Linked DNA regions of Homo sapiens: region 1 is linked to region 2. Evidence: fine-mapped expression QTL. Tissue or cell type: whole blood. Region 2 holds a variant in brackets; the other region holds the start of a gene. All regions are shown on one strand. Distances are from middle to middle.

What was found. PIP is the estimated chance that this variant, and not a neighbour inherited with it, causes the effect.
Region 1: SLC29A2 starts here. The variant in region 2 is fine-mapped to the expression of SLC29A2 in whole blood (TOPMed, PIP 0.95).

The regions. Positions count from the first base shown.
Region 1 is chr11:66,369,836-66,374,322 of GRCh38, reverse strand. It overlaps SLC29A2 (solute carrier family 29 member 2), which reads left to right and starts at 2,563. Exons shown (of 12, transcript NM_001532.3): 1 at 2,563-2,760; 2 at 2,998-3,079. The coding sequence starts at 2,732. RefSeq lists a silencer at 2,108-2,867.
Region 2 is chr11:66,324,225-66,332,459 of GRCh38, reverse strand. RIN1 (Ras and Rab interactor 1) reads left to right here. Exons shown (of 10, transcript NM_004292.3): 10 at 1-2,219. The coding sequence ends at 184. Among named protein-coding and RNA genes, the nearest start is that of RIN1, 8.1 kb to the left of the region's middle. RefSeq lists an enhancer at 5,414-6,163. The variant C/G (reference allele first, on the strand shown) is at 3,779.

The DNA of each region.
Region 1 (4,487 bases), 44 kb before region 2:
CTCTAGCCTAGGTGACAGAGCAAGACTGTGTCTCAAAAAAAAAATTGTTTTTTTTTTTAAAGAAAAGAGGCTGGGTTTAGTGGCTTATGCCTGTAATTACAGCACTTTAGGAGGCTGAGACGGGCAGATCACCTGAGGTCAGGAGCTCGAGACCAGCCTGGCCAACATGGCGAAATCCTGTCTCTACTAAAAATACAAAAATTAGCCAGGCATCATGGCACACGCCTGTAATCCCAGCTACTCAGGAGGCTGAGGCAGGAGAATCGTGTGAGCCCAGGAGGCAGAGGTTGTAGTGAGCCAAGATCCTGCCACTGCACTCTGGCCTGGGCAACAGAGAGAGACTCCGTCTGAAAAAAAAAAAAAAAAGAAAAAAAAAGAGAAAAAGAAAAGAAAAAAAAAGGTAAGAAAAGAAAAGAAAATCCTGGCAAACTAGTGGGTCTCTGAGTGGCCAGTTTCACTGCATGCCTGTATCGCATGTGAGTTTGTAGCCGTGGATTCACTGCAGTTTTAGAAAGAAGGGCAAGCATTTGACAGCTTCATGTACCATGAATATTAACACATTCACACACACCATGTTATTACTAAATAATTTCCCTTATGATTCATCTGCAGTAAAATCAGGATATTATCTCGACATCAAATGTTATTGTGTATAGGTAGGTTTTGTTTTATATGAGTTTCATTGCAGGATAGTAACAAAATATTTATTACAAGGACGATGGAATCGGCTCCAGCTGACCGTCTGTGCTTTGAAATGAAATCTGAACTCCTTAATCAGCCCTCAGACTTGCCATAACCAGCCTGGCTGTTGTAGAGGCTCTGTCCCCTCCTCCCACCAATGCCAGCCAAAGGGATCTATTTGTATGTCCCAGAATGTGTCAGCACTCTCTTGTCCCTTGTCTTGGGACAGGCTGTTCTCTCCCTGAAATGCCCTCATCCTCTCCCTTCACTGTCTCAACAAATTCAGTGCTCCCTAGCCTCCATTCTCAAGTCCTTCCTTCACAACCTGTGCCATAGCTGTGCTGCACCAGCGGCCTCGCTTTTCTTTAAATAACTCATTTTCCATAAATAAATTGATTTTTCAAAGAAAAGTTGATATCATAATCATAAATAGGAAACCAGTATGAGTAGCCCTGAAAATAAAGTTGCTATAAAAATAAATATAAGAAAAATACAAGTTAATAACTTTTGATAAAATTGTCAGCAGACCCTCTGAGGCTAACTGAGGGGAAGGGATGGGAAGGCAGATTAAGAAGTGTTAGCAACCTGTTAACACCCTTGACATATTCAGAGGCTTGAAAGAAAATGGGAAGAATAACTTTCTCTTTCGGTGTAATTTAATGCTGTCTCTGTTCTCCCTAAAATCACCTGCATTTTACTGCAACCACCCATTTATCACTCAACGGCGCTAGATGCTGCCAGTAAACCAATGGACCAGATAAGCACAGCCTCTGCCCCTACAGACTCTCAGTCGGCTGGAGGAAAAACATAAGCAACCTGGGAATGGCTATAAAATGTCATTGCTTAAGAAAATAGTTTGTGGCCGGGCGTGGTGGCTCACGCCTGTAATAGCAACATTTTGGGAGGCCGATGCGGGCGGATCACCTGAGGTCAAGAGTTCGAGACCAGCCTGGTCAAAAGATGAGTTCGAGACTAGACTGGCCACCTCTTCAGTAGAGCTGGTGAAGCCCCGTTTCTACTAAAAATACAAAAATTAACCGGACGTGGTGGCATGCGCCTGTAGTCCCAGCTACTCCTGAGGCTGAGGCACCAGAATCGCTTGAACCTGCCTGGGAGGGGGAGGTTGCAGTGAGCCAAGATCACGCCACTGCACTTCCGCCTGGGCGACAGAGCGACACTCAGTCTCAAAAAAACTAGTTTGTGTTTTGGAGCCTCTCACTTCTCCAGCGTCCCCGATACGCCCGGGGATTGCAGAGAACCCACACCTATTCGTAGATTATGAGAGTAGGAGCAAATTAATGATTTATAGTCTTTTCAAATTTTTTTTTTTAACAGAAAAAGAGTAGGGAGTTGAAAGTAATGCTGTTTTTTTCCAGGCACTCCCGGGGACCCAGCGCGGCGAAGCCCGCCAGGATCGCGGGCGACCTGTGGCAGCTCTGGTTCCCCCGCCCGGGCCCGGCTCGGGTTACGCTCTGGGCGGGGACTCCGCAGCGGCTCCCTAGTTAGGGGGCGCCCCGGTGGGTTCCAGCTTTAGGGGTCGCAGGAGCGGCTCTGGCATCACCTCGGAGCTGACGAAGCGGGAAGAGCCCCGCACCAGTGCTGCCCCTACAGAGCTCTCGGCGGGGGGTGGAGGTGAGGTTACACCTCGTCCCTACCCCCGCCTTCCCCTCCGCCGCAGGGATCCGGGACCCGCCCCCGCGGAGAGGACGGGGGGCTGCGGGGAGGGGCTGTGCGGGGAGCGGGCGGGTTCCGCAGGCCCCTAGGTGGGGCGGGGCCCGAGCCAGAGTCGAGTCCCTGAGGCGGGTGGGGGAAGGAGAGACGGGTGGCGCGACCCTCTGTCCCCGCCTCGGGGCGGAGCCCAGGTCCCAGCCTGCGGAGCGCGAGACACGCCGAAATCCGCCCGAGGCTACCTGTGCGACTCCAGCCGCCCTGCACCGGAATCTGGGGAGACCCGCCCCCCGCCCCACCGGTCTGCGGCCCTCCGCCCCAGCGCAGGTGCAGGTGCGGCTTCTCTGCCCCTTTCACCCCAGGCGCATCCGCCGCGGCGGCCATGGCGCGAGGAGACGCCCCGCGGGACAGGTGAGTGGGCCCGGGTGCGTTGCAAGTGGCCGGGGGCGTTGCAGACCCGCTCCCTGAAGGCGCTCCGAGGCTCAGAGAAGACCGGATCGAACTACAATTCCCATCAGCCGACTCCCTCGGCCGCCGGAACCGGGGTGATCGGGGTTGTAGTCCGCTCCGGAGGGGGTGGCCTGGGAGGCGGGAGGGCCTGCGGAGGCGGGTGCGTCCTCGGGGTGACCTTCCCACCGATCCCCACAGCTACCACCTGGTCGGGATCAGCTTCTTCATCCTGGGGCTGGGCACCCTCCTTCCCTGGAACTTCTTCATCACCGCCATCCCGGTGAGACTCCTGGCGGCGTGGCAGCCTCGTGGCCACAGCCAGCACCCCTCCCTCCAGCCCTTTGGATGAAGCTTAGCGGGCGCTTCCTCACCGCGCACCTGTGACCCCTCGTTGAGCTCATTATGGGCTGAAGCTCGGAGAGGGGAATGCTTCCCCCGTGGCTAGGAAAGTAGAACTTCAGCAATGCCCACATCTCAGAGGGGCAAGGCCACCAGCCCACAGGGTCTGGAATGAGCAAAGGCGCTGCCACCCCTCTCTGTGTGTCGTTATTCCTGAGTCAGTCACCCCAAAAGTCGGTTATCGAACGTTTGATTTTCTTTGAAATACCATGAATTTCATTCATTCACTCATTCATTCAACAAACTTTTTTTTTTTTTTTTTTTTTGAGACAGAGTCTGGCTCTTTCGCCCAGGCTGGAGTGCAGTGGCGCCATCTCGGCTCACTGCAAGCTCCGCCTCCCGGGTTCACGCCATTCTCCTGCCTCACCCTCCCGAGTAGCTGGGACTACAGGCGCCCGCCGCCACGCGCGGCTATTTTTTTTTGTATTTTTAGTAGAGACGGGGTTTCACCGTGTTAGCCAGGATGGTCTCGATCTCCTGACCTCGTGATCCTCCCGCCTCGGCCTCCCAAAGTGCTGGGATTACAGGCGTGAGCCACCGTGCCCAGCCTCATTCAACAAACTTTTAATGTGCATCTACTGTGGAGCAGGCACTGGGGACACAGGAGGAAACAGCAGGGAGGCTCTTCAGGGAAGGCAGAAATGTGGGGTTTGCATTGTCTTTGGGACCGGGTTATTCATCTGTATTCACTGCAACAACTTTGCAAATGCTTCTTGGGTACTGGCTCTGTGCTGGGCCCTGGAAACCCAGAGATGAATCAGCCCCTGGGCTTGAGAGCAAGAGGGGGCCAAAGAGCTATTAATAATGTAACATGATGCGTGACATTCCAGGCTTGCAGCAGAGTGCAGTGGGTCCCCAGGGGAGGGAGAAAGTTCCTTCTGCTTCATGGAAGAGGAGATTTGTAAATTGGGAGTAGGGTAGGCAAAGTGCATGTGGAGGGGTGTGGTCAGTAGGGCATTCCAGGCCGAGGCGACAGCCATGCCAAAGGCAGGCAGGCAAGAGACGATCAGCCTGTTTAGAGGGAGATCCACAGCCAGGGCTGCCTGGAGCTTAGCAGGATGGAGCAGAAGATGGGGCACAAAGGGAGACTAGGATCTGATTCTGAAGAGCTGTTCCATTTGGGGCTTTGCCCTGCAGGCAATAGGGAGGCATGAATCGGGGTGTTGAGGAGTGAGGAGGTTAAGCAGAGGAGTGGCAGGCTATGTGCTCTAGAGAGAATGCAGTTGTTCAGCACCTAGGCCAAAGCCTGGCTGACAGTAGGCGCTCAATAAATACCCGTGGAATGAATG
Region 2 (8,235 bases):
GGCAAGAAGCAGAGGGGAGGAGCAAGGGTGCCAGGGAGATGGGGATGCTGGGGTCAAAGCCAGCCCCAGGGACATTCGGGAACAGTCTGAGACAACTGCTGAAGGGGGCCAGGGTCAAGCCCAGGAAGGCCCTGCTCAGCCAGGGGAACCAGAGGCAGAGGGAAGCCGGGCAGCAGAGGAGTAGCTTGAAGTGGCCAGAAGGGTCATTCGGGGCGGGAGACCCTGAGCCTGCTGAGAAATCCTTTTAGCGCCAGCAAGCCCCACCCAGGGCCCTGTCCTGTGTCTGCCACCACCTTTGTCTGATACTTGTTTCCAGGGAAGCTGGGGGAACTGCCACATCTGAGGAACTGGAATAAAGATGAGGGGGCTTCGGGGGCCCCCAGACTGTGTGCCCAAGGCCCCTTGCCTCTTGTTCTTCTCCCCCAGCTGAGGGTGAGCCAGCCTGCAATGAGGGTGTGCCAAGTGGGGGCGAATCCGACAGATGCCCAACCTCTGACGTGGGGAGGGTGACGGTCTCAGCTCCTTTTACCCTTCCCCTCATGGGCATGGCTGAGGCAGGGCTCCACCCAAGTATCTCCCACCAGGCTGGGACTTCCAGACCCTAAAAGGTTCCAATGGCTCTTAGGTGTCAGGAGGATTTAGAGAGGCCACAGAACAGCAGCAAAGGCTTGGGGCCCACCCCTGTCCTGGACACCAGAAGGACCTGCACCTGCAAGCCTCAGTACTCTCATCTGTAAAGTGGGGACACTATTGCTGCCCTGCTCGGCTCCCAGAAGTGTCCCAGTGATCAAAATGGGTGATTTTGCTACAAGCAGAGCTCATGGCAGAAAGGGAGGGAGAGAGCTGGGCTGCTAACTCTCTCCCGGAGTCCGCTCTCTGCCAGACAGGGCTCCCACCTGCTGATGCCCAGTTCAGGGAGGTTATTCCCCTGGAAATCAGGCCCTGGGGAGAAAGTACCCAAGTTACAGTCTCTCCCCAAGATTTGGAGTCCTCCCAGGCCCTCCAGCATCTCTGGGGAGATCCACCAGCTGGCAGATAAGCTTCCAGAATGGAGAGGGGGCTCAGAAACCATGCTCTCTGCACTAAACTCTTGGCCCTCACAAAAGCTTTACTTGGCCATGACTTGTTGGGCCCACTGAGGGTCAGGAAAGTGACTCCCAGGATGTCATATAGCAAGTCCTTAAGGGTTCCCCCGCCCAAACCAGGGCATCAGGTTCCAACTCCACCCTCCATTCTAAGCCACCCACAAAGGCCGGGGCAGCCCCCAAGGAAGCCCAGAGCAGGCAGCAAATCCAAACAAGGAAAAGTGCCGACCACCAACCACGAGGGGGTGTGCACGGCCCGGGAATCTGCCGAGAGGGTGACCACCCAGGGGTGAGGGCGCCTCCAAGGCTGCAGCAGCAGAGGGGGTCCCGGGCCTTGCAGTCCAGCAGCATCAGGCAACCTGGGGACAGCGCAGGGGCCAAGGCCACTGGCCCCCAGGTCCCTTAGATTCTGGGGTCTGGGTAAGGCCAGCCTCTTGGGGGCCATCCCCAGGAAGGAAGGAATTGTCCCCTTATGGAGGATGACCCCAGAGGCTCTCTCCTCGGGCACTGAGCACAGAGGGGACGTCAGCCCAAATGTCAGACATGACAACTGGGAGGTAGAAATCGTGGACATTGGCTTTTTGGGTTTTTTTGTTTGTTTGTTTGTTTGAGATGGAGTTTTGCTCTGTCGCTCTGGCTAAAGTGCAGTGGTGCCATCTCGGCTCACAGCAACCTTCGCCTCCCAGTTCAAGTGATTCTCCTGCCTCAGCCTCCCGAGTAGCTGGGACTACAGGTGTGCACCACCACACCTGGCTAATTTTTGTGTTACTAGTAGAGACGGGGTTTCCCCATGTTGGCCAGGCTGGTCTCAAACTCCCGACCTCAGGTGATCCGCCCGCCTTGGCCTCCCAAAGTACTGGGATTACAGGCGTGAGCTACCACACCCAGCCAGACATTGACTTTCAGATGAGCAGTCCAGATACAGCCCAGTTGCACGGCTCCCATTTTTTTTGTCACTAGGCCACCAGCAGCTCTTCCCTCCCCACTTCCACGCCCTCCCAAGGTTCTCGCTGATAGGAAGTGTCCCGTTGGCTCTTCTATTCCCCTCCCTGTTTCACCACTCACCCCTAGTGCCTCACACAGTCCAATGCTGAGCACAAATGCCATAGGTGTTCAATAAATGTTGTTCACTGATTGGAGTTTGATAACCAGGAGTGAGGGACAGTGAGGCAGAAACCTGGGGAGTATAAGGGAGGACTCGGTTCTGGGAATCAAACACGGGATGTGTCAAGCTCAGTCCCAGAGGAAGGACCTGGAATGTTTGTAGAGGGTGCTCGGAGGATCCCAGGGGCCGGATGTACAACTGGCCTCATGGGAATGAGGCTCTGGGGCCTCTACAAGCCCTTCCCACCCTTGCCAGGCTCAGCATGACCTGACCCCCTCCCTGCCCTCCCCAGTGATGGGGCACCACAGGGAGCTGCTGCCTGGGTCTTGTGGTTTTTCTTCTCAAGAAACTCTGGGCTGGGCCTGGTGGCTCACGCCTGTAATCCCAACACTTTGGGAGGCCGAGGCCGGTGGATCACCTGAGGTCAGGAGTTCAAGACCAGCCTGGCCAGCATGGTGAAACCCCGTCTCTACTAAAAATACAAAAATTAGCCAGGCGTCGTGGCACACACCTGTAGTCCCAGCTACTGGGGAGGCTGAGGCAAGAGAATCACTTGAACCCGGGAGGCAGAGGTTGCAGTGACCCGAGATCACACCACTGCACTCCACCCTGGGCAACAGAGCAAGACTCCATCTCAAAAAAAAAAAAGAAATGAAAAGAAAACAAAAAAGAAACTGATTGGTCAGGGGTCCAGGCCAAATCAGCATCAACAAGATTATGATCCTGGGGCAGAGCCTCCAGGCAAGGCAGACAATGATAGGCCAGTGTAAGACCAGTCTCACTAGCCCCATTTTACAGATGAGAAAACTCAGACTTGCTCAGGGAAAGTGCCTTGTTACAGGACAAAGGGCTCAGACACCAGGTTCTGTAGTCCTTCAAAGCAGAGGGGCTGATTTATATGTCCACTCAGCACATCTATCAAACATCTGTTATAGGCCGGGCAAGGTGGCTCAGGCCTGTAATCCTAGCACTCTGGGAGGCCGAGGTAGGCAGATCACCTGAGGTCAGGAGTTCAAGACCAGCCTAGCCAACATGGTGAAACCCCATCTCTACTAAAAATATAGAAGTTAGCTGGGCAAGGTGGCTCACGCCTGTAGTTCCAGCTACTTGGGAGGCTGAGACTGGAGAATTGCTTGAACCTGGGAGGTGGAGGTTGCAGTGAGCTGAGATCACACCACTGCATTCCAGCCTGGGCGACAGAGCAAGACTCCAAAAAAAAAAATCAAACAACAACAACAACAACAGAAGTGTCTGTTATAGACCAAGCACCAAGCGCCCCCAGCTCCAGCCAAAGGGAAATAGGTCACATCTCTCCATTTGCATGGCGTGATCTGGGTGGTAACTGAAAGCTCACTGTGTCCTAGGGATTCCATGCCACCCCTTCCCCAGCCTTTGTCCTTATGGAAAAAGAAGCCAAGGCTCCAAGAGGTGACATGCCTGGCCCAGCGTCCGCTGCTGCAGGGCAAGACTGGAACTCTGACGTTTGGATCTATGAAAGAGCAGTCGGGTCATTTCCTTACTTGGAAGCATTGACCTTATCACTCCTAAAGTCACGGTGGTTCTGTATGCAAGTTTATTGTCTGTTTCC[C/G]TCACTAGAATGCCAGAGCCACCCCCACCTTGTTCGCAGTTAAATCTCAAGGGCCTTGAACAATGGCCGGGCCGGAACTGGCACTTGTGAATCTATGTGGAATGACTGATTCGGAAAGACGCAGCCTAAACTGTCCCTCCGCTTTCCTGGGTTGCAGGGTGGCGCATCCTTCATTGCTGCCACCAGGGGGCAGAGCGCACCTCATTCCTGGCCACGTGCAGGGTCCCCTCTGCTGAGGCGGAGGACCCAGGGGACTCAGTGCTCCCAGCCTGCTGCTAGGAGGAAAGCACCCAGTGGTGGGTCCCTGGGACCCTGCGAATGGGGGGTGAGGGAAGGGCTGCATATCCCTGGTTCTGTGGGCCAGTGTGCTCTAGGAACCAGGGGCCTACTGGTGGCCTGAAAGGGTTGCAGCAGAAGGCAGTCATTGAGACCCACCCTACCCTGCCACACCTTCAACACAGAGCATCTAGCACCCTGCCATGGCCTTGCAACCCATGTTCACACCCACAATTAACACACAGTGACACTGTCTGACCCACATTCCCACACAGGGTGCACATCCTGCCAGCCACGGGCACGTGCAACAACCCTGGGGCACCCCCAGGGTTAACAGGCACACCCTGACACTGTCAGCCATTCACTCCTGCGGGATGGGGTGCAGGGACACACTGGCGCCCCTCCTCCCAGACACACCCTGACACAGACCAGCCACCCACTCAGACATCCCTGGATCTGCAAACACTGAAATATTTCAGCACCCTTGTTCTTGGGTTCAGAGTGTGACTCCTGGACACACACATGGGGACAGGCTGACACAGAGACACATGGTGACCACCTACACTGGGATCCCATGATGCACTAGACCTACCTGTGCAGAACTGCCACCGGCACACTCCATCCCCCACTCAGACGCAACGGCGCACACTCTCCCGAGACACAGCACACGGCTGCCCCTTCCCACTCTCCAAGCATTTGAAGTGCAAACACACACAGAGACACACTCACAAAGACACACACAGAAACTCACAGAGACATACACACACAGACACACAGAGACACACACACACAGACACACATAGACACACAGAGACACACACACAGACACACAGACACACAAAGACAGACACACACACACATAGACACACAGACACACACACACAGACACACACAGACTTTTATACTTTGGAGCACACAGAAGCGGTCCAAGCCCTCTCCCGAGTCTCCTCACTCCAGCCCTGTCCTGTCCCACCACCACTCACCCACCCCAGCCCATGCTAGACCCTGGTGGGAGATGTGGGTTGCTGGAAAAGACCCCCATGAGGGGTGTGGTGACCCCACTAGCCAGGCAGGAGGCAGAGGCAGGCAACGCTGGGTGGGGAGGCCTGAGCTCATCAGATTCCAGCCTGAGTGATTCACAGGAAGAGCCTGGGGAGGACCCTGGAGGAGACACTGGCCCAGGGGCTGGGGCATTTGGGGCCTGAATGGGCTTTGGACCAGAGGGTCCTGGGTCCAGAGCGAGCCTTGAGTCTGGGGGCAGAGGACTTCCTGAGGGGGTGGCCCAGCCTGAAGGGTGCCTGCTGGACGCAGCCCCTGGGAGGGGCTCGGGGCTCAGCTGAGCCGCAGGATGAGACAATCGGCCCTTCCCACCCACCCCACCCAGGGCCAGGGCCCCTGACCCCACGCCTTCCAGGTCCTAGCAGCTGGGTGTCTTTAGCAGGGGTTAGGCCAAGGGTGGGGGCAGGGGTGTGGTGACCCTCTTGGCCCATTTTGGCCCCTCAGGCCCTCAGGCTGACAGCTCAGAGGCCCCAAAGGGCTGGGTCCGCCTGGCTGGGTTGGGGCCAACTGGGTTACAGCCCCGCACAGCCCTGCCAGGCGAGGCCTCTGCCAGAGAGCCGGGAACGCACGGGCTGTCCCCATGCCAGGGATGTTTTCCTGCTGAGATCGAGCCCTGTGCTTCTGCCACCCTCAGAACCCCTGTCTCCCAGGCCAGGCTGATGCTCAGAGGAGGTGGGGCCTGCAGCGCCCAGACCCAGCTGCAGGGTGACAGGAAGAAAGGATGGGGCTGGGGGCAGGGCGGGGGTGCAGGAAGTGCCTTTCTTGGAACTCTGCACAAAAATAGTCCATTCTGTCCCTACGCCGAGTCTCAGGGTCCCACAGGGAGGTGTGTGTCACCAAGGAGACCCTCAGCTGGGAGGGGCCGGTGCTGACCTTAGTCTGGCTTCTGCTAGCACCTCCCTCCCTCCCTCCACCCTCCGCCCTCCACCCCTCCACCCCCACTGCGGCCTCTGCCCCACTTTGAAGTCCTAACATAAATACCATGTCTGCTTGGGTTCCCCTTCCCGGCCTGGTCACAGCCCCCAGACCTGGCTTCCACCCCAGCCAGCCCCGTGGGAGTGTGGTGCCAGCAGACAAGAGGGAGGTCTGGACCACCCAGGGAAGGTGGCGAGCCAGAGACCCTGAGACAGAGACAGGGAGACACCGGTGGTGGAGGGGGAGACCAAAGTGAGCAGAGAATGGAGAGACAGACCCCAGAAACCAAGCAGGGGACGATCCTGAGGGCAGGAGAGGAGAGAGACAGAGACTCCAGAGACAGAGAGGGAAGAGAGGGGAGCAGAGAGAAAGAGACCCCTGCAGCCAGAGAGAGACGGAGTGAGACCCTGGGGACAGTAAGGGGCAGGAGGAAGAGGGCACAAGACAGGAAGCAAAGGGGAAAGTAAGAACCTTCAGAGAAGGTTCCAGAGATGGGGTGGGGGGAGGCAGGGACAGGGGTAGCAGGGGGAAGGATGTGGTGGAAAGAGAAGTGTCCCTGGCAAGTGGGACCAGCCATCTCGATTTCCTGGGATTGGCAGGGGTGTTGAGGGTGTCCCAGGACATGGGACTTTCAGTGCTGAAACCAAGAAAGTGGTCAGCAAACCTGGACGAGTTGGTTGCCCTGGGTGGTAGGCCTCTGGCAGACACCACGGGGACCACAGTGTCCACTCCACAGGCACCCCTTGCACAGGTGAGGAACCTGTGACCCTGAGAAGGGCTGCTCCTACACTGGGGCAGGAGGCCTGGGCCCTTCTAGCTCTGACACGTGCTCTGGGACTCCCTTTCTTGTGGGCAGATGGGGCCAGATGTTCAGGTCAGGCTTCTGCCACGAGAGGGAAGTGGGGTCCCAGCTGGGCCCAGGTTGGACAATCTGGGGGCAGCCATATGCTGCTCCCTCACAGCTGTGGGCACAGGTGTGGACTCGCGGGGACACACGCACATCACCCAGCTGTACACTCACAGCAGTCCCAGGCCTTTGCAAGCACACACATGCACACGCACACACACATGCACACACACATGCACGTGCACACACACATGCACACATGCAAGCATCCAGGAACACGAACATGGCCTCTCACCATGGTAAATACACCCCCAACCCTCAGCCCCCTTCGGTCGGCAAGATCCTTTACCCTCAGGGGCTAGGCCTGGTCTGGACCACACTTTTCCTGGGTCCCCCTTCCCCAAGCCTATTCCTCCCACCCGGCCCACTCCCCAGCACCACTGCCTCCCCTTCCGGCAGGGATCTCCCATCCAGAAGCACACAGGTTGGGGGGGAGGAGCAGGAGGCTGCAGTCGCTCCCTTCCCTCCCCAACTCCTGCCTGGGGTAGATGCCTGGACTTGGGTGGCAGGGACCCCCCAGCGCCCACCCAAGACCAGTGGCCTCCCACCCACCACACATCAAAGCTTCCTCCTGACAGTCCGAAGGCTGGGGTGGTTTGGGAAGAATTTAGGCGTGGAGGGAGGTGGGGGATGGGAACAGAAGAAAAGGAGAAAAGGAGGTGATTTGTACACAAAGCAATGTGCTGGCTCAGCGGCCTGGCGTGCCAAGGCCGTCCAGGACGCCTGCCTGGGGGGCGTCCCCTAATCACACTCGATACCCCACCCTGGCTGTTCCACTGGGCCCTCTCTGGGCCAGCCCTTCTTCAGGCCGCCCTCACCCTCACCCCCACAGGCCCACACATGGCATCCAAAACCACCATCTGCTTCTTGCCTGTCCCAGTAGCTGCAAGACAAGGCTCCTTCTCAGGCCATGGGCCTCTGTGTTCATGCTGTTCTTCAGATGAGCTCCCCTCATATGGGCCATGATCAGAGCAGGGAACCCCAGCCTCCTGACCCCTGATGTGAGCTGAGCCTGGCCTCCTGAGCTTGGAAGGTACATCGTCCCTACCCTCAGCCAGGGAGACATGTTGGCCTCAGAACCCAGCAGAAAACAGGCTGTTTGGTACCACGAGAAGCATCACACCTGATCCCTGCCAGTGGTAGTCTAAGTTGTCCTGTCCTGGGCTGCACTTCTGCAGAGCCGCGGAGTTCTGTTCTGAGCATGTCATTCATCATGGTGGCTGCTAGTTATGACTCAGGACCTCCCACTTCTGCCTGTGGCCCTATATCCAAACATGCATCTCAAAATCTTCTCATCCAC